Regions from separate parts of the Homo sapiens genome. Here region 2 is linked to region 1. Evidence: fine-mapped expression QTL. A gene starts in region 1. The other region holds a variant in brackets. All regions are shown on one strand. Distances are between the middles of the regions.

Region 1 (10,251 bases):
TTATAAAATGGTAAGAGTCTGTCACAGATTCCACATTTTAAAATTCCAGGAACAGAGTTGCTATGCACATTCAAAATCTGCCAGCAAGTGCACTGACTTGGAATCAATGAGATTTAAACATCTAAGAACCAACAAACCTTCCAGAACAATTAAAATAGATATTTTAAGTTATTTTGGAGAAGCAAATAAATTCTCTCATAAAGGTAATGTTCTCACAACCTTTGACTTTGCAAAACTAATAGGCATAAGTTAATACAAGAATCTCCATGCAAATTTTCCTTGAAAAACTTGTATCTGAATATGACTTATGTTGCAATAAAAAGTAATGTATTGCAGTAAGTTTCATTTACACAGACTAGCAAAATGATCCTTAAATATAGCCAAAACTTTCAGTAAGTCTTACCTTCATTAACATATAAATACAATCATCCTTTCAAAGGACTATTAGGAAAGCTATTTAACTTTAAAGATTGATAAAGATTGAAAAAGCTCTTTGGAGAACTAGACTATCAGCAAAACAAAGAAACTTATTTTACATGCTAACAGCAACTTGATCAACTGCATTCAAGACCACCGATAAAACACGTCAGTCTGCCTCAAAGTAGCTACAGTAACACCTGGGTTCCATTTAAAGAGACCCACTCTCTCCTTTTTAACCATCTTAAAATCTGTTCCAAAATTTGCATGTTTCCCATATAATGTGAACACACAAATAATACTGTTATACACTCAATGCTTAAATATCTATAATTTTTCTCTTTGTATTTCCCACAAACCACACCATAAAATTAATGTTTCACATTTGTATGCCAAATCCAAAAGAAAAATTTCAAATTATGAATGCCAACAGAAGTCCCTCAACATTAGGCATTTTTGAAGTTGTATAAAGCTTTATGAAGCAATCTCATTTTCCTATAAAGTTGCATACGATAAAAGATATAACAGATTGCACCACAAAATTTTAACAAAAAATAATTCAAAATGAAAGTAATGCCTTTAAATGTATCCTTGCTCTATTAAATAAATCCTAATAAAACTGACAAAATAGCAAAGGTCAATTTCAGCAAACATAACATGAATAGTAACACATGGAAAACATTTTTAAAATCCTCATATCTCCCATTTATTTTAAACCCATAGATTTCCTAAGCATTAGATACACACCTAACGTTCTGTGTTGTGAACAAGGTGGAAAGAAGACACTTGCACTTAAATCTTGAAGCATCCCGTCCTGATGAACCCAGAGAAACTAATTTCTGCCATCAGAAAAGTCCTCCACCAGAACACCAAATAATGATATGCGCTGCTCTAAAGGAAACAGCAAGCCAGCCGGGTTCTGGCTCTAGGAGGTCTCTGGAGGTACAATAATATAAACCTGATCAATTGCAATTAAAATCTGAACAGAGGCTTAGAACTTGAAGTCTTGGTGCATTAGTTCTTGCCAAAAGCAGATGTGATTGTGAGCTGGAAGCAATTTCTCCTGGTAATTTGTGATGACACTGGGTAGTACAGCCCCAGAGTCCCCAAAGACAAACTCATCAGAGGCTCTAATGTATGCATGACACATGAGGTGGCTCTTTTAGAGCTCAATTAATTGGGCTGAATATTAAGACAGCAAGTTCAGGACTTCTTTTCTTTCTCCTTCTAGAGTTGCTTTCCCCCCTTTTAAAGCAAATTTTGCCTTACCTTCTGCAAGCCATGTTTCCTGTAATTGACTTAGATCTTGAAAGAGTTCTAAAAAACAAGTCAAAGACATAAACATAAGATTTGCAAATCTTTAATCTTCATTAAATGGAAATATTTGTCATGAAATTGGTATTAAATATAAATTTAATTTCAAGAGACGCAGTCAACATAAAAATAAAAAAAAGAGGCATAACTTAAATATCTCAATAATACTGCCTACTTTTCATGCCTATTAAGCAACTCTTTAAGAAATTATTTTAGTCAACTAAAGAATAAAGTCAATCATCTTTTCTTCTTTTTAACAAACAGCTTAATAAATAAGCTCAGGGATACCAGAATTCACAAAAAGGCTGAGGTGAATATGTGTCTGTTCACTGAAATCTTCCTTAAATATATTTAACTCTTGCTAAAATAGTAGTAGGGGGAAGATTAGAAAGACTGAAAAGCATTTTATTTATATCTTCTGAATCTTACATAAAATATATAATGGTACATGGTACAACTGTCAAAGTATTATGTTTTCAACTTCAATACCTCGAAACTAAAAGAAACCACTTCAAATACAAGTTTTTAGAGGAAAATTTCTACATTAATAGGTTTATAAAAGTCAGAAAGATAATTCTTTGGCACCAGGTTCTCATCAAGTTCTAAACTATATGGTCATGTTAGGGAGGGAGAGAGGGAGGTATTTAAATGGTATGAAGATTTGAGGAAGTTTCAGAATTCAGTATATCTAATTAAAATTGCCAACTAAACTTTGATAATTAAATCTAAGTATATTAAGTTTATTATGAATGTCCTCATATGGCTAAAATAATTTGTAACATACTGACATCCTAGCAACAGTTCATAAAAAGAATCTGCAAACTAATTTCCCAAATAGTATTATAATTATTAAGGAGGCCTTAAGTATGATTCAGTGAACACATTATGGTCGATAAACAAGGTATTATGACCTCACAATTTAGTCATCAAAATCACCCTTGAAAATTCTGTTAATAGTAGATGGTTTTAGTGTAAAGGAGGTGGGAAACCAAACAATCACTAATACTGTTTAACTTGTAATAAAGGAGAAAGAAAAAAGTAAGCAGTGTACATAGCTGCTGAATTTGTCCCACTGTATTGGATATTTTTAAATTGTTATCTTAGTGAATGGGGTGAGTTATATGCCCCATGGACAAAGGTATTTAAACACAAAACAATGATTAAAAGAAGGTTGTCATTGAGAAGTTTTTATTTCCTTCTTTCATTACTTTGTGATAGGACCATAAAATAGTCTCCCATGCAAACTGCCGCATTATGTAAATCGTTCCAAGTTAAAGTCTTAGTTAGATTCAGTAATTTCAAAGTTTATTATTTTTAAGATAAGACTGAAGTGCTCCTTTTCTTTTAGCAGGGTGGAGAGTGTAGGTAAAAAAATGGGGATTCAGCCCAAAATCAAACCTCACCTTCTGAATCATGAGCCAGATCTCTGTTAATGAATTTTCTTTTCCTGACATTTGTTGGTTTCTCGTTACAATTTCTCCCACGCTGACTCTACAAAGGGAAAGATAAAATCCTTTAAAAGAATGTAAACCTCAGATCACACACACGCACACGCGCGCGCACACACACACACACAGACATGCATACATAAGTCTAATGGATCTTCTCTGAATAGAAAAATAGAAGTCCATAGTATCAACTCTAATATTCATTTTCTCACTTATTTGACAGTGAAAGCTTATGTTAAGCAGGCAGGGAGAGTTGCTTCCCAGTGCCGATCTTAGCACATTACTATTTATCAATCATATATTCATGGTATCTCAGCATCAAAACAACCTGAAGCATTTACACTTAAAGTTGTTTTTAGGCTGGTTCAATGCTAGATTAAAACAGTGGGTTTTATTCTCTCTTGGACAGCCCCTCCTCCCCACCCCACCCCCACAAAAAAAAAAAGCAAAAAGAGTAGAGAAATGAAAAAAAAAAAAAAGAGAAAATGAGAAAAAAAAAAGAAACAAAAACACCCCATATAAACAAAAAGTGTCAGCATTTGTCTCAACTTCATTCTTTTCAATGTGGCAGACAAACCCAGCCAAAAACTTTGAGTGCAGCAGCTGCTGCTGCCCTCCATCTCCTCTTCCACTCATGTTGGGCACTTTAATCAGAAAAAGGGGTCTTAAAAACAAAACTATGCCTTATCCAAATCACTGAAAGGTAAGCTCATTTTGAAGACTGGGCTTCTAGAAGCAGAGTCGCCCTACAGTGGCAACAAAGCAGATAAGTATCTGCAATCCCAACCCCCGTGCCCCCTCCCTTCTCATTTTCTCCCTCTCCCCACCCCCGACGGAGTCAAGTTTATAAACAGCAACTTTCAAACTGATCACTCACATTGGTGACCATGTAAGGCACTTGCTGGTCATAAAATCCATCCATGCTGCTGCTCTTCGCAAATCTCAGCTCAGTATTTTATATTTTGAGCATTTAGCTGGAGATTTCCTCAGGATCTGGACTTCTATCAACCTAGAGGGGAACAAGATGGCTTTTAGGCTTAAAAAAAAATCATGAATGAAGCTCTTGAATTTGCATAGCTAATTACCCTCCGACAGTCCCATTCACAAAAATAACCCTCCCTACACCGCCTCCTTCACCTGGATCCAAAGAGAGCCAACAGAGTTCACAATTTACATATTTTCGGTAGTAGCAAAAATCCGAACAAGAGGCGATGTATTTATTTACACTCTCGATGTTTCCCTGCGCGGTCGGTGTACCCCGGGCAGCTCTGATTCGCAAACGTGTGCAAAACTAGCAATGGCGATCAACGAGACTTGCTTTGCACCTAACGGGACTAAAGAGACGGAGACACCTCTTTCATCAGGATAGTTTTTGCGACCCACAACCATGCAATTATCTGGAGAGACATAAAAAGTTGTTGGAAAGACCCACCTGAAGGCCACGCTAGGCGAAAGGCTGCAAAAACTTCCCTCCAAATTTAATAAAAACATTAATTATAGCCCAGCACTTCCCCCTTGGAAGCCGAAAGCGCCTCTGACAGAGCTCAATTCGGTGGTTTTTCCTCTACTTCTCCTCCAGGGGCCTCCAATCCAAACTGATGGATCGCTGCCTCCCATTGGCTCCGCGTCTCTTTCACAAGATCAGATTTCGGGCTGTCAATCAGGCGGCTTGCTGCCCCTTCCCGCGGGTCTCCCTCGCCCCTCTGCCCTAGGGGGTGCTCGGCCGGTAGGCGCTGGGTCCTCAGCCTGGAAGCGCCACGGAGAGACTCGATTTCCTCTGTAACCCGCTGCTTATTGTTAAGGCGCCTGGGGATACTGAAACCGTGTGTTTCGAGTCGCCAGTTCCCATTATTGGGGTGTTAGGTCCACTATTGGGCTGGTTTCCTTAAAGTACTGTTGTGCGGTTCTGGTATACCCTTAGAGCCGCGATCCACAAAGCCCGTACCGCCTTATTCAGCTGCCCTCCCCTCAGGATCTCCAACCTCTCTACTCTTGCCCTGACTAGGAGCTCACCTCGCTCTCTATCCTCATTCCCACTCAGCTTTTGGCCCAATTTATTTTCCCGTTTTTCAAAACCCACCATCACCATTATGGTTTATCGAAACATTTTTTAAACAGTCATCCTCAACTAAAATTAGATCCTATCGTTCGTGGGACAGAAACATAAAGAATCTATAAGGAAGGCACCTAGGAGATGCAGAATTGCTGATTAGCAGAGGTTGTGATGGGAGGACAACAGAGCAAGCTAGGTGAAAAAGTATAAGTCAAAATGGTCCCTACGTGTGCACTGGGAAAAGGTACTTCCAGTCCACTGTGGCTGTGGGGAGGAGGAGGGAGTGCTTGGGGTTGCTCGTATATCCTAGAACCCGCACGTTTCCTGAGCTTTTGTTATGTATACACGGAGGCGGAGGGTGTCACTTACTGTACTTGACGCTTTCACTTCCTCTCCAGCTTTTAAACAGCCAGAGCCCAGGGTTGGGGGCGAGCGGTGAGATGGCTCGGGTTTCAAGGACAATAACTAGGACGTTAAGCAGTGAGGGCTGCATCTCTGAAGCCACTTGCCCTGATCCTCCTATGGGACTCAGAACAGTAAAGCGTCACTTTAAGGAGCCAGTGTCCAACAGCGGACGGGAGGCCGCGGGGATAGGACCAGGGACTCAATGCTGTTGAAATTCATTTGTGACCAGAACTAGTGACCAAAAGACGTTTCCGGCAGCTGTTCCGCCCGTTAGGAAACGTGCTGCAGTTCTCAATTTCTATTTGAAAGTTTCCTTCCTTAAATAGAACGTTATGGAGACACATTAAAATGGAGTGTAAGAGCGCACAGCACTCAACCCCGGACCTGGGCAGGAGAAAGATCTACTTAAAAAAGAAGCAAACAAACAAACAATCAACACTTATTACTGGGAAAACAACCAATAACTATGGACAGCAAAGACAGACCCCGCGCATTCCCGGAAACTACTAAATCGGAGTTCACAACGCGCGCACCTATAAGCATTTTGAGCGGGAACTGCATTTTAACCCCGGCCAAGGAGAGATTCCAGGAAGCGCCTGGGCCCCGAGGCTGAACAGTGAAGCTCATGGGTACTATCTGAGGGTGCAACCAAGCAGGGGGTCAATAACAAGGGTCCTCCACCACCCTGCACTCCTGGAATAACCCAGCGCCTGTAATCTGAGCAACAGTTTCCAAAGACCTTCTCTGCAGCCCGAGCCTGACGGGTATCCAGGGTAACCGCGAGGGGGCGGAGCTTCGGGTTAGGTCCCGGCGAGGTTCTTCCCGCAGCCAATAACGAGCCGTAAATCCCCAGCCCATTGTTGTTTATTGCTGACCCCTCAGCGCTCCGCTAGGAGATTGGCCGCTTTAGGGAAGGGGGCGGAGTCCCGCCCGCCCCAACAGCCACCTTTCGTCTCCATTCACAAAATTCCGGCCCTTCTTGGTCACGTGGTTGGGGGCGTGGAGGGGTAGAGGAAATGACACAACAAAGGCCCAAGTATCCCAAACCACAAAACTTTTTTCAGCTCGCTGCCTCCTCTTTGTCCTGTCCCTGAAACAGATACTAGATGAGGAAAAAGAGGTTGGGGTCTGGGAGTAATAACAAGAGAGAAAAAAATTAAGACCGAAATTAAAGGAAGGCTCACGTGGGGATAATTCCGGCGTGCACTGCTTAGACAGCTTTTGCACTAGAGGAAAGAAAGAATTGAGAGTGGGGAGAAAGTCTTAAGGACTGGGAACTTTTGCTTGCTGCTTCAAGTCATTGCTTTTAAAGGTGCAAACTGTTCGACTGTAGATGGATTTCAGTTTTTTCACTTAACATTCTGTAATTTTCATTTCTACCTTTTTTTGTATCCCACAGTGTCTTGTTAGTTTTTTAAAGCTTTTATGTATTATTAGTATTATATATTTTTAGGAATATTGATGGTTTTCGCTGGCTGATAGCTTTAGTTTCCATTTCCAAAGACTTATCACTCCTTCCCAGGCCCCCATAAGCTCTGCGCCCCTTCTCCCTCCCTTTAGTGGACTGGCACTCTCAGGCGCTGCGCTGTTAAGCCTCAGATTTTACTACGTATTGCGGTGGCTTCATATTTTCCCTTTTGAGTTCTTTAAACGAACTCATATCTTTTAACTCTTTGATCTTCATAGTAACTGAAAATGATGTTCTCGTGTGAATAAGCAGCTAGTCTCGCTACAGCTCGGTTTTGTTGAAACAGCCTAAAATTTTGAGATAAATGTGTCCCTCTTGACTGTGAACGATTGAACCACCCTCTTTTCTTTCTCCCACTTTCTCTTCTGTCCTTTCTCTGCATTGATACTTACTGAAACACTATCTCTTCTGTCCTTTCTATGCCTTGATACTCAGACACTAGCTTCTAGTTTGGCAGTTGTTTATCTTCTCTGCTTGGCACTGGGAAAAACCAATAGACCCACTTGCTGAAGACAGTGGAAGGGCTGAAAATTTGTTTTTCAGAAAATGTAAGATCTTGGAAAATATCTGCAAAGGCAGCTGTTCTGTCTACAAGACAGGAACATAAAAAGCTGGACAAAGTTTCCACTACTTTTTGAGAATGTCTTTAAAACATCAGTTTAGTAAATGCCAGCCCTTTTGAACGGAAAATTTCATTTTGGCAGGATTTCAGGCATAGAATGGCAGAGCAGAGGCCAAGAGGCTTTGACATTTATTTGCTTGTATTTTGAAATCCCATTTGGATTTTGAAATAAGAGTTCTTGAGAGAAAGCTACCCCCCTCCAAAAAAAAGTCCATTTTTGAGTTTGGAAAGTTTTTAGGTTGCATGTAAAACTATTTAAATTTTTATATTTCCCTTGCTGTTATTTAATAAAGTAAAATAATATTCATTAGTGACTTCTCTACAGTTAACTTACTATGGCATTATGAAGAAATTGCACGTTGTTAAAGAAAGTGAATTTCTAAAAGCAGTTACAGAAAGGCAACAAGCTAAAATGGCGCTGCTTGTTTTAAATGGTTGCTATAATTAAAATCAAATGAAGTTTGCTCAAAATTGAGTAGAGTATTAAGTAAAACAGTAACTTTTAAAATTTGTTGTATTAAAACAGTATGTAAGGCAAATTGTTAAAGATCTAGTTTGCACAGTTACATCAAATAGATAAGAAAAAGATATAAAATTAAACAGCAAAATTGGCCAAGAAAATGAACAAGTGAAAATAATTCCAAAGGAGAACATAGAGTCCTCACAGGAGGGTGAAAGATAATCAGTGGCTTCAGGAACACTGTATGTGAGGAGTAGCAGAAATTTGAGAGGAGGGTGGAGCCTGGGAAGAAGGTAAGGGTATCAAGGAAACTGATACTATGTAGCTGTATACTCTCTCACTCTCAATACTGCCATTTTCAGCTGGTGACTATCTGTAAACTCCCTCAAGTAGAGGAATTGCAAACAACTTATAAATGTGGAAAAAAAAACTTTTAACTGCACCCCAAATCAGTACATTATACTGTACACTTAAAAAATAAAGAATTTTTTTATTTTTATTATTTATTTATTTATTTATTTATTTATTTATTTATTTATTTTGAGACAGAGTCTTGCTCTGTCACCCAGGCTGAAGTGCAGTGGCGCGATCTCGGCTCACTGCAACCTCTACCTCCTGGGTTCAAGTGATTCTCCTGCCTCAGCCTCCCAAGTAGCTGGGAGTACAGGTGCCCGCCACCATGCCCAGCTGATTTTTGTATTTTTAGTAGAGATGGGGTTTCACCATATTGGTCAGGCTGGTCTCAAATCCTGACCTTGTGATCCGCCCACCTTGGCCTCCCAAAGTGCTAGGATTACAGGCATGAGCCACCGCGCCCTGCCTTAAAGAATGTTTTAACTCATCAATTTGGAAGGAAGTTTCTAATATACTTAGAGTTGGATCCTAGGATAAGGGCACTCATGTATATTGCTGGTTGGAATGTGACTTTTTGAAACCTTTTGAAGGTAAGCTTACAATGTCTACTAGACTTTAAAATGAACATCTATTAGACCCTAAAATTATATCCAATAATCCTCATTTGGGAAATCTATACTACAAAAATAAAAGCAATGGTGCATGAAGACATTTATTGAAATATTAGGTACCAAGGAAAAAATCTGGCAGCAACTTCAGTATCCACCAATAAGGAAATGGATTTGACAAAGTATGATACTCTTATAGTTTGGAATTCAATTATCATTATATACCTGTTAAAAAGTATGCTATATGGTTGGTTCTCAAATTTGAGATTATATAAGACACTCCTTGTTAAAAAGTGACATCCCTGGGTGGATTCATAGAGTTTCTGATTCCGTAGGCTTGAGCAAATCACGTGGGAATTCTGTTGCAGGAGGTTGTGTTGCAGTTAGTATGTCAACATTTCTTTGAAAAATCGTGAGTTGAACTTCTACCTCACAAGTCCAAAAGGAAGCCAGCATTGTGTGCTAGTCCAGACCTGTTTTGCTTGACCCACATAATGTTGACCCTCAAGGGAAAGTTATTGTCAACATTCAAAATTCATATTATACACAAAAATTTAGACTTCCATTGCTTGAAAAATTAGAGAATATGGTAACACTGGGCCTAAATTCCCACATAGCAACCATGAGCTGGAGCTGATGTAAAGGAGCTGATGTTCCTCATGAAGAAGCATGGGCTCACAGTTTTGCCATGGTCTACATTCTTCCCCAAACCCTGTTTGTCTTGTTGATGTTACCTACCTTACCTCTGAAATGATTTGCATGCAACTATGATTTACATGTGACATAGCGTATTGAATGATAATAAAAGCAAGAGACAGAATATACAGTACCATATATTCTGTTTTCGTTAAAAAGAAAAAATAGTGTACATAAAGGTGTGTATATACACTTACACATATATATGTATTCACAACCTTTTTTTTGTTATTGTCCCCAAGGAGCTTTTTTAGACATGTTTATTCCTTATCACCTCCTTCTCATTATATTTTAATACCACAGTTTTACTGTGTATCTGTTTGTGTCCTGTAGTCCTTTAGAGTGTCACAAACCATTATGACACCTAAGATACATCCCTCCAATAACCAGTTTTCAACACTTGGGA
Region 2 (10,251 bases), 83 kb after region 1:
GTGCTGGGATTACAGGCATGAGCCACCAAACCCGGCCTATATAACCTTTTAAGATGAAACATTTTAAAAATAGAAAAAAGATTAGTGACATTACATTGTGGTTTGAGTTTATATTTTCCTAATGTCTAATGATATGAACATATTTTCATATGCTTATTACTGAAGGATTTTTATATCTTCATGGGTGATGTATCTCTTTGTATTTTGCCCATTTTCTAATTGGATTATTTGTTTCTTTAACTGTTAAGTTTTGGGAGTAATTTATCTAGTCTAGATACTAGTCTTTTGACAGATATGTGTTTTGAAAATATTCTCTTTCAGGCTTTGGTTTGTTTTTTCATCCTCTTAATAGTATTTTGCAGAGCAAAAGTTTTTAATTTTAATGAGGTTGAATTTATACATTTTTTTCTTTATGGATTGGGCCTTTGGTGTCAAGTCTAATAATAATTCATTGCCTACTCCTGGACTGTAAAAATCTTTATATGTATGTATATATAAAATTATATATATATAAAAAATATATAAAATTATAGTTACGTTTATAGAGTAAGCCTTAATGTTGAGTAGACTGACTCCTCTTGCATTATTCTCTTTTCTTCTGTTTTTCTTTCTTTCCTTCTTTGTCAAAATTGCATAAGCTATTGTAGGTCCTTTGGAATTACATTAAGTCTATAAACCAATTTGAAGAAAATTCCAACCCAATTCATGCAAGGTATGCTTCTCCATTTACTTAGATATTCATTCATTTCTTTTGTCAATATCTTAAAATTTATAGCATGTAGGCCGGGCACGGTGGCTCATGCCTGTAATCCCAGCACTTTGGGGGGCCGAGGCAGGCAGATCACGAGGTCAGGAGATCGAGACCGTCCTAGCCAACATGGTGAAACTCCGTCTCTACACTAAATACAAAAATTAGCTGAGCGTTGTGATGCGTGCCTGTAATCCCAGCTACTCGGGAGGCTAGGGCAGGAGAACCGCTTGAACTAGGGAGTCGAAGGTTGTAGTGAGCCAAGATCGCGCCACTGCACTCCAACCTGGCAACAGAGCAAGACTCCGTCTAAAAAAAAAAATTATAGCATGTGGATTCTGTATATTTTTGGTTAAGTATAGACCTAAGTATTTCATTTTCTTTGGAGTGATCATAAATGATACTGTGTTTTTAATTTCCGTTTCAGAATGTTCATCATTAGTGTATAAATACATGATTCATTTTTGTGACTTGATCTTTTATTGTACCACATTGTTCAACTTTAGGAGCAGTTTCTTACTTTATAAGCTGTATCCCTTTTATTTCTTTATCTTGCACTATCGCAGTAATTAAAGTTTCCAGTAATATGTTCAATAAGAGTAATGAGAGTAGATATTCTTGTCTTCTTCCTGATCTTAAAGAGAAAGTGTATTATAGTCTTCAACCATTAAGTAAAATGTTGACTGTAGGGTTTTTACAGTTGCTCTTCAGCAAACTGTGGTACTTCTCTATCTCTCATTTGCTGAACGTTCCTTTTTTTATAAATCATGAATCAATTTTGGATTTTGTTATTTTTGTGGGCCACTTAAAATGCTCATATGTTTTTTTTTAGCTTATTGACATGATTGTGATATGGTTTGACTGTGTCTCCACCTAAGTATCATCTTAAATTGTAGTTTCCATTATCTCCAGGTGTTGTGGGAAGGAACCAGGGTGAGGTAATTGAATCATAGGGACAATTACCCCCATGCTGTTCTTGTGATAGTGAGTGAGTTCTCACGAGATCTGGTCGTTTTATAAGAGGCACTCCTCTCTTTCCCGCTGCGGTGTGAAGAAGGATGTGTTTGCTTCCCCTTCTGCCATGACTGACTGTAGGTTTCCTGAGGCCTCCCCAACCCTGCGGGACTGTGAGTCAGTTAAACCTTTTTCCTTTATAAATTACCCAGCCTCAGGTGTTTCTTCATTCAGTGGATTACACTGAATGATATTCAAATGTTTAATCAGTCTTAACATACTTGGAATTAATGTTATTTGGTAATGCAGGAAAGTTCTTTTTATGCATATTGTTAAATTGGGTTTACTAATATTTTTGTTGATGGTTTTTCATGTAAATTCTTTGTTGTTATCAATTATGTAATTTGGTTCTTAAGAAATTTAGAACACCAATTTGTGAGGATAAATTCCATTTGTCAGTGCAAACACAGATGCAGGTGGTCCTGGAGCTGAGGAATAGCTTTGATTTTGGGGAAAATTAGTGAGTCCACAGTTTTCTGATCAATCTTGTGCTGCCCTGTAATCTTGTATTTGTTTTTTCTGTGTTGAAGATCTCACCTTCCTGGTGTGTGGGCTTCCATAGCCGCTTCTTCTTGAAATGTCAGTAAGATGTTTTGGGATTTTTACATTACTGATATTAATTTTGGTTGAGATGGCAATGACAAATTTCTGGTGTGTTCTTTGTAGAGGAACTCAATTGAGGGCCAGAGATCCAGTCACAACTAACAAGCCACTAGCCACCTGCTTCAGGAAAACCACCCTCTTGCCTCTGTAGCACTCAGTGAGAATGATCAGAATGGCCCCGGGGGTGACTGTGGCTCGTAGTTTTCTCAAGTGCTGACTGAAGGGTTTTTGGCTGTGGCTCAACAGCTTTCGAGGCACATCTCCAGTAGAATAATATCTAGGGATTTTGCGAAGTTTAACTATCTGGGCACCACCCTGCTTGTCACCACACACCTTTCCTTCATTTTTTTTTTTTTTTTTCAACTTTGGATTTAGCGGCTAAGTACTTCCTCTTGTGCATGGCCCTTCTGCAATATGTAGCAGATTGGGAACATCTGCCAGTTCCTCAGACAAGGACAGGATTTCAGCTGCAATGAAGCTTCCCTTTCGTGGGCTTTTTAGCTTTGAGGTCATGTCACCCTTTTTCACCCTGTCACCATCAGCCCTCTTGGCTTTGAGTTTCTTCTCTTTAGTATCCAGTTTATCAGCTTTTTCATCTGCCATCTTGCAAGATGGGAAAGAGTCATGTAAATTCTTGAGAGATACTGGCCGGTAATTTTTTTTGTACTTCCTTTGGTTTTGGTAAAATAAATTAGAAAGTGTCCCTTCTTTTTCTAATTCTGAAATAAGTAGTGTAAAATTTGCAAAAGTGATGTTAATTCTTCTTTAAATGTTTGGTTGAATTCACCAACAAAACCAGCTAGAGCTAGAGATTTCCTTTTTGCGTCCTTTCAAAATATGAATCAAATTTCTTTAATAGCTATAGGAATATTTATAACATTTATTTCACCTTGGGTCAGTTTAGGTAGTTTGTGGCTTTTGAGGAATTTGTTACATTACGTTATCAAATTTATGTATGTAAAATTGTCTGTTATACTTTCTCATTATTTTATTATTATTATTATTTTTTTGAGACAGAGTCTCGCTCGTCGCCCAGGCTGGAGTGCAATGGCAGGTTCACTCCATTCTCCTGCCTCAGCCTCCAGAGTAGCTGCGACTACAGGCGCCTGCCACCACGCCCGGCTAATTTTTTTGTAATTTTAGTAGAGATGGGGTTTCACCATGTTAGCCAGGATGGTCTCTATCTCTTGACCTCATGATCCGCCCGTCTCAGCCTCCCAAAGTGCTGGGATTACAGGCGTGAGCCACCGTGCCCGGCCTCATTATTCTTTCAATGGCTATAGAATCTGTGATGATATCCCCTATTTAATTCCTGATATTGATGATTTGTGTTTGTTTTATTCTTGTCAGTTTTGCAGAGGTTTGTCAATTTTGTTAATTTTTTTGGAAGAAACAGCTTTTGTTTAATTGATTGTCCCTATTGTTCTCCAATTTTTAAATTTTATTGACTTCTGCCCTTTATGATTTTCTTCCTTCCATCTTTTTATGGGCTTTTTGGTGGTTTGTTGTTTGCTTTCCATGTATTTAGACATTTTCCTGTTGTATTTCTGTTATTGATTTCTAACTAGACTCATTATAGTCAGAGAACACACTGTATGATTTAAATTCTTTAAATTTTCTTAAGGTTTATTTTCTGGTCAGGGTATGACTTATCTTGGTAAATTTTCCATGGTTACATTTAAAAAAATGTACATTATGCTGTTGTTGGGTAGAGTGTTCTATGTAAGTTCATCTGTAGCCTTGCTTATTTTCTGTCTAGTTGTACCATTAGTTGCCAAAAGGAGAGATGTGAGGTTCCTGGCAAATTACCCCTTAATTCCTGAAGAAGAAAGTTAACAGTTTCTTTCTTTCAGCACTGGAAAAATATTGTGCCACGTGCTCTGGCCTTCATGGTTACAGATAAGAAATCATCTGAATTGGTATTCCCCTGTAGATAATGTGCTGTCTCTCTGGCTATTTTCAGAAGTTAATGATTTTGTGCTTTAGTGTAGATTTGCTTGGGTTTATTCTGTTTGGGGTTCACAGGACTCCTTAGATCGAAGGTTTGTGTCTTTTGTCAAGTTTGGAGAGTTTTCAGTAATGATTTCTTTAAATACTATTTCAGTCCCATTCTTTTTCTCTCTTCTTATGGGACTCTAATGATATGACTGCTATATATCACAGGCTCCTGAGGCTCTGTTCACATATATTTTGTCTATTTTTCTGCCTTTTATTCAGATTTGGTAAATTCTATTGATTGTCCTCAAGTTCACTTATTTTATCCTCTGTCATCTCCAGTCTTACATTGAACCAAGCCAGCAGTTCTATATTTTCTGTTTGTTTCCACTGGTTCTTTTTATAAGTTCTATTTCTTTTCTGAGTTTTCTGTTTTTATTTATTTCAAGAAAAATCTATAATTGATGTTGAAGTGTTTTTTGATGACTGTGTTAAAGTTTTATGTCAGATAATTCCAACAGCTGCTTTATCTCAGTGTTGGCATTAGTTGATAGTCTTTTTTCATTCAAATTTTTATTTTCCTAATTCTTAGTATGATGGGTGATGTTTTTATTGTATTCTGGAACTGTTATCTATTGTGTTAGGAGATTCTGGCTCCTATTTGAATCTTTTATTTTAGCAGTCAGTCACGCTGTTAAGCTTTAGCGTGCACATCTTAGCCTACTTTTGTGGGCTGCTGTTCTAATAACAGTTTAATTTTATACTTTTTTTGGGTCTTTATGGTTTTTATTTTGGCCTTTGGTTTATCTGGGACTACCGAGGCTCCCACTGCTCCCTGTTCATACTGCTTGAAGGGATGGAAGTGAGAGGGGTTTAGCCAGACTGGGCTGCCTGGTGTTGCTCAATGTGAGAAGAAAGTCTCAGGTCTAGAGGGACAAAGAGGCCTTCCTTTCCTGGCATGTGATGTAGTGGGATACTTCCTGATTGTAACCCTTCACCTCCATGGAAACAAGCTCCCTCATGGGAGGCAGGCAATAACTTTTT[G/T]TTCCTTCCACTTCCTCATATGAAACTTCAAGATAATAAAAGAGGCAACTATTCAGAGTCTAATTACATCGAAGGGAAGTCCTGGGATGGCTGATTAAAATTGGTATGCAAAAGGAGGAAACTGATAGTGTGATCACCTGAAGCTTGGTGGAATTTCATAGGAAATTGTGGGACTCATAACCATCTCTCCTCAAATACCCCCTGATGTTAAAAATATCGAGAAAGATATGCTCATCTTATTTGCACCTAGATAAAATACAAGCAAGGAAAAGTTCTAATGAGCTTCCAGTATTAGATGCCAAAATACTCTCTTTTAACATTTATTTTGTAATATAAGAATAAAATTGACATGAAGGTCAGTGCCTTTAGATCCAATCTCCAGTAATACATTGTGTGGTTGAAATGGCCTGGGGTGGAATGGAAACTATTTGAGGTCTATTAGATAAAGAAGCACAGTGTATAGTGCTGCCTAGTCCTGCTCATGAGTCTTTTAGGGCTAACAAAATCAATTTACAGGGATGTGAGGATGCTATTGTAGTAGGGTAAAAACAGTCTGGATAGCATTTGTAATGTATGATTAAAAACCCTTGAATTCTCTCCTATAATGTTGTGATATGATAACATGGGTTGTAGATCTAGTAGAACTGGCAGTTTTCTATTGATGATATTATAATTATTTTAGAACCTAAGAATCAAGCCAAAATCAAATTTACTATAGTCATAAATTGCATGATAATCAGGAATGGTTGATTAACCTCACAAAAATTCAGAGCCCCACATAGACAGTGAATCTTTTGAGCATTGCATGGACTTGAGCAACCTATGACTTATTGCAGACCACTAAAAATGAATGATTTTTACTGCCTGTTTCTTAACCTGAACAATGTCTATTGGCCTTTCTTGACTTTTACAGAAATCACATCCGTCATTTGGAATACTGTTAGATCTGATCCTTAAAATCTTTTAAAGAAGGCCATGTTTAATTGAGGGCTGTAATGCTAGTTATTCTTTTGGATAACATGGTCCTAATGTTGAAATGATACTAGAAGTGTTGGCCACTCATATTTAGCCAACTGGAGTCTTTCATAAAACCCCATAACCACTGCTACTGAACAGTTATCTCTTGTCTTTTGAATTATAAAATGACCAGATGCTCCTCTCTGGTATACTCCTTTTAAAAGATAGTTACTGGCTTATTATTGGGCACCTACACAGACAGCCCGAATAAGTAAATTGTTTAAGGCCATATTAAAGCCCCAGTAAAGCATTGCAAAAAAAGAGGGAGATGCCGAAAGAAGTTTCCACATAAGATGGAATAAAAAGGGCATATGTAAGAGCATCCTACCAGATAATTTACAGGAAAGACTTCTTACATTAGTAAGCAAGTAGCCTTTTTCTTCCTATGACCTACTGTAAGGCTGCTTAAGGATTTGCATGGTACTATTGTTGAACGGGCATATTTTTGAGCAATTGTCTTAGAATGTAAGGCAATTGCCCTGGTTCACAAAAGACAGTTCCAAAAGCAAATGCCAAGACCTGGCATGAAAATCAGGGCTGGGTGCAATGGCTCACACCTGTAAACCCAGCACTTTGGTAGGCTGAGGTAAGAGGATTGCTTGAGGCCAGGAGTTTGATACTAGCCTTGTCAACATAGCAAGACCCTGTCTCTACAGCAAAATAAATCAGCTGTTCTGCATTCAGCAAACAGTAAAATACTCATGGAAAAGTACAGAGCCTGTATTACAGGCTGTGTTCTTCGCAATGATAGAAGAACTTAAAAAAAAAAAAAGGCTCTACTCTTTGGCTTTTTATAATGACTATATTGACTTTTTGGCTTTCAATTTGTTCTGGAAAATGGATCAGATGGACCACAGAGGGGCCTCCACCTGGTGTACTGCTCTTTGTAAATCTCTGTGGAAATTCTGAGAAAAAAAATCAAAGGCACACTGATGCTCAACACAGCAACCCTGTGTCAGGATCTGAGATGACTGAACTCAAGAAGTTGATGTTCTACTTGGATTTCTTGAAGTGGTAACCTCGGTCCAAGACATGGGTGAACACAGACAAATTCAAACCATGCAATGATGTGCCAAATTACAACACACCCTGGTGGCCTCTACCAATATAATTTTTTCTGTATGCCAATGGAAAAGGCAAAATCTGCAGTTCACCCTTGCCAGCGTATAGTTGGCAAGTAGATTACATTGGCTTTTAACCTATTGCTCCAGGGGAGGGTACTTAAAAGGATATTGACAGAACTTGATACACATTCTGGGTTTGGATTCCCATACTCACTAACTGAAGCCAAAGCTGCTTATGTTATCAAAGAACCGTGACCAAAAAAAAAAAAAAAAGAAATACTCTATCATTTTGGTCCTCTTAATTACATTTCATCAGATTAAGTTATTAACTTCTAGAGAAATGATGGGTAAAGAAACAGAAATATCACATTCAATAGACTTTTAAAATATATTCCCGAAGTGGTGGGTTAATAAAAACTGACATGTGCAATTAAAACACCTATTTAAAAAGATGCAGGTAACAAAGGATTGAAGGGCTGCCCTACAACTTCCAGCTTTATCTTTATTAATTTTATTTTACCAAGAGGATTATTATGGGTCTCTGTTAGATAAATTATTGTGCATTTGAAATAAAATTGGAAAAGACGGGAGAAGAGATGATGCAGGAGCTTACTACATTCAAATCTTCCCTTGTATGTAAACAATTTCTTTTCAGTGCTATACCCAATTATTCCTAGGTTAGAGTTACTGTCCCAGAGGCTGGTAATATCCCAAAAAAGAAATTATGTCTATTAATCTGAATATAACTGAAAGAATCCCAAAGCGATTGATGGGATAAATTATTTCTTCTCCAGACTGCCAAGTTTGGCCTGACAACCTTGTGGCAAATATTTTGTGTAATGATTCTATTTCTTTGTACTTTTCCCATCTAACTCACTATGACTGGGAATAGAATAAAAGAGGAAGCCTTAGTATGTGTCATCTTGTTATCAGCAATATGGACCAGACCATTGGCTGGACCAGAGAGACCCATCTCAGTGGAAAAGCTTTAGATAAAAATTAATGATAGAAGGAAGAAAAGTGAGATTGTAAATGAGGGAAAGATAGTTAATTAATGGAGGTTAAAAAAAGGAAACACTAATATAATTCTGTCTCTCCTTGTGAGAGGCTTGGAGCAAAAGAATACTAGCTCATTTAGCTTCAACTCAGATGTCCTGGAGCAAGCACTCTGCTGGAATCTCTTCCTCTTCTAAAGGAAGAGAAGGACTAAACTGAGCTGGCTAACAGGCACACTAACAAACACACATGAAGGAGTGGGCTATGTCCTCAAAATGGATAAACTGATAAAAGCTCTGACTATGACTACATGAAACAATATTAATATGGCCATGTATTTTGATTCTTTGTTTCTCAAGATATGTCTATTAACAAAGACCCATGGAAGGAAACAACTTACTGAGAATATTTATCAAATGAAATCTGAAGAACACAGATTCATAGTAATCTGAATGAACATTGTGTGGCCATTAATTGTGATGATGAAGATTAAAAAAAAAGGAGCTGGCATATGATCATAGAAGATTTCCTGCTGTATGTCCCATCTGTTATAATATCTTATATACAAATAATTGTTTACTTTATTTTTACTCTCTTTATTACAGCTTTTTCATCACAGTTAAAACATTTAAAAAATAGCCTAATGTTGATGTGATGTAAAATGCATTAGCAGAGTAAATAAAAAACTCCTCAGATAATTATGCCTATGGAGGAGAATTGACCTGAAGAGGACTCAGACTTGATTTAGCAGGTGTATACCATAAAATACAGATAGCTGAAAATTAGAGAGGCAAAGGACTTGTAAAGTTAGTATAAAAGTAACAAGAAAGTTTGTGCTGATATTGATGGCTAGTCTAGCTATCTATTTCAACACATACCAACCTTTAGCAGGCTATTACAAAAGTACAAACGTAATCTGCAGGTGGATTTTTGCTATCTTTTTTCTTTTTTTCTTTTTTTTGAGATAAAGTCTCACTCTGTTGTCCAGGCTGGAGTGAAGTGGAACACTCTCTGCTCACTGCAACCTCTGCCTCCTGGATTCAAACGATTCTCGTGCCTCAGCCTCCCGAGTAGTTGGGATTACAGGCACGCGCCACACGCCTGGCTAATTTTTGTATTTTTAGTAGAGACGGGATTTCACCATGTTGGCCAGCCTGGTTTTGAACTCTCGACCTCAGGTGATCCACCCACCTTGGCTTCCCAAAGTGCTGGGATTACAGGTGTGAGCCCACCATGCCCGACCTACTATTTATTTGATTATGCAATGCTATCAGACTAGTGAGTAGTTAATGACTAATAGAATCACTACCACCCCCAAATCTGTTATTTCACCATAATAAATGCGCATTTGAGTCCAGATTACATTCTTTGTTTCCAATACTAATATACTAATAAGTTTGGGCGACTATAAAGAATGAAGCCACCAGGCTTAAACAGCAGAAATGTCTCATAGTGTTGAAGGCAGGAATTCCAAGATCAGGGTACCAGCATGATTGGGTTCTGAAGAGAGCCCTCCTTCACTTGCAGACTGCCAACTTCTCATTGCAGCTCAGATGGCAGCCTCTCTGTCTGCTTGTTATTAGGGCACTAATCCCATTCATAAGGGCTCTACTTTCATGACTTAATGAACTCCCAAAGGCCCCACCTCCAAATGCCATCACATTGAGATTAGGATTTCAACTTACGAATTTTGGGAGAACACGAGCACTCTGTCATTTCAAATAGTAAGCTTTTTGAAATGACAAATAATCGGGGTAAATGTCGTTTGCTAGCCCAACTCCCTATGCAAAAAAGATTTCTACTTTAGAGCTCTGTTGTTTCATTTGAGAC

Direction of the effects. Alleles are on the strand shown, and positions count from the first base shown. SD is a standard deviation of normalised expression in the study named.
For the expression in subcutaneous fat of the gene that starts at base 4,715 in region 1, allele T in region 2 goes with a lower level than allele G (small effect, 0.37 SD a copy in GTEx).

Evidence for each region. PIP is the estimated chance that this variant, and not a neighbour inherited with it, causes the effect.
Region 2: its variant is fine-mapped to the expression of ETV1 in subcutaneous fat (GTEx, PIP above 0.99). The same link has a PIP of 0.9 or more in visceral fat.

Annotation. Positions count from the first base shown.
Region 1 is chr7:13,984,952-13,995,202 of GRCh38, forward strand. ETV1 (ETS variant transcription factor 1) reads right to left here and starts at 4,715. Exons shown (of 14, transcript NM_004956.5): 1 at 4,612-4,715; 2 at 4,317-4,513; 3 at 4,057-4,188; 4 at 3,135-3,222; 5 at 1,687-1,734. The coding sequence starts at 4,101. RefSeq lists enhancers at 95-889, 6,235-6,736.
Region 2 is chr7:14,068,413-14,078,663 of GRCh38, forward strand. It overlaps the pseudogene RPL6P21. Among named protein-coding and RNA genes, the nearest start is that of ETV1, 84 kb to the left of the region's middle. The variant G/T (reference allele first, on the strand shown) is at 5,345.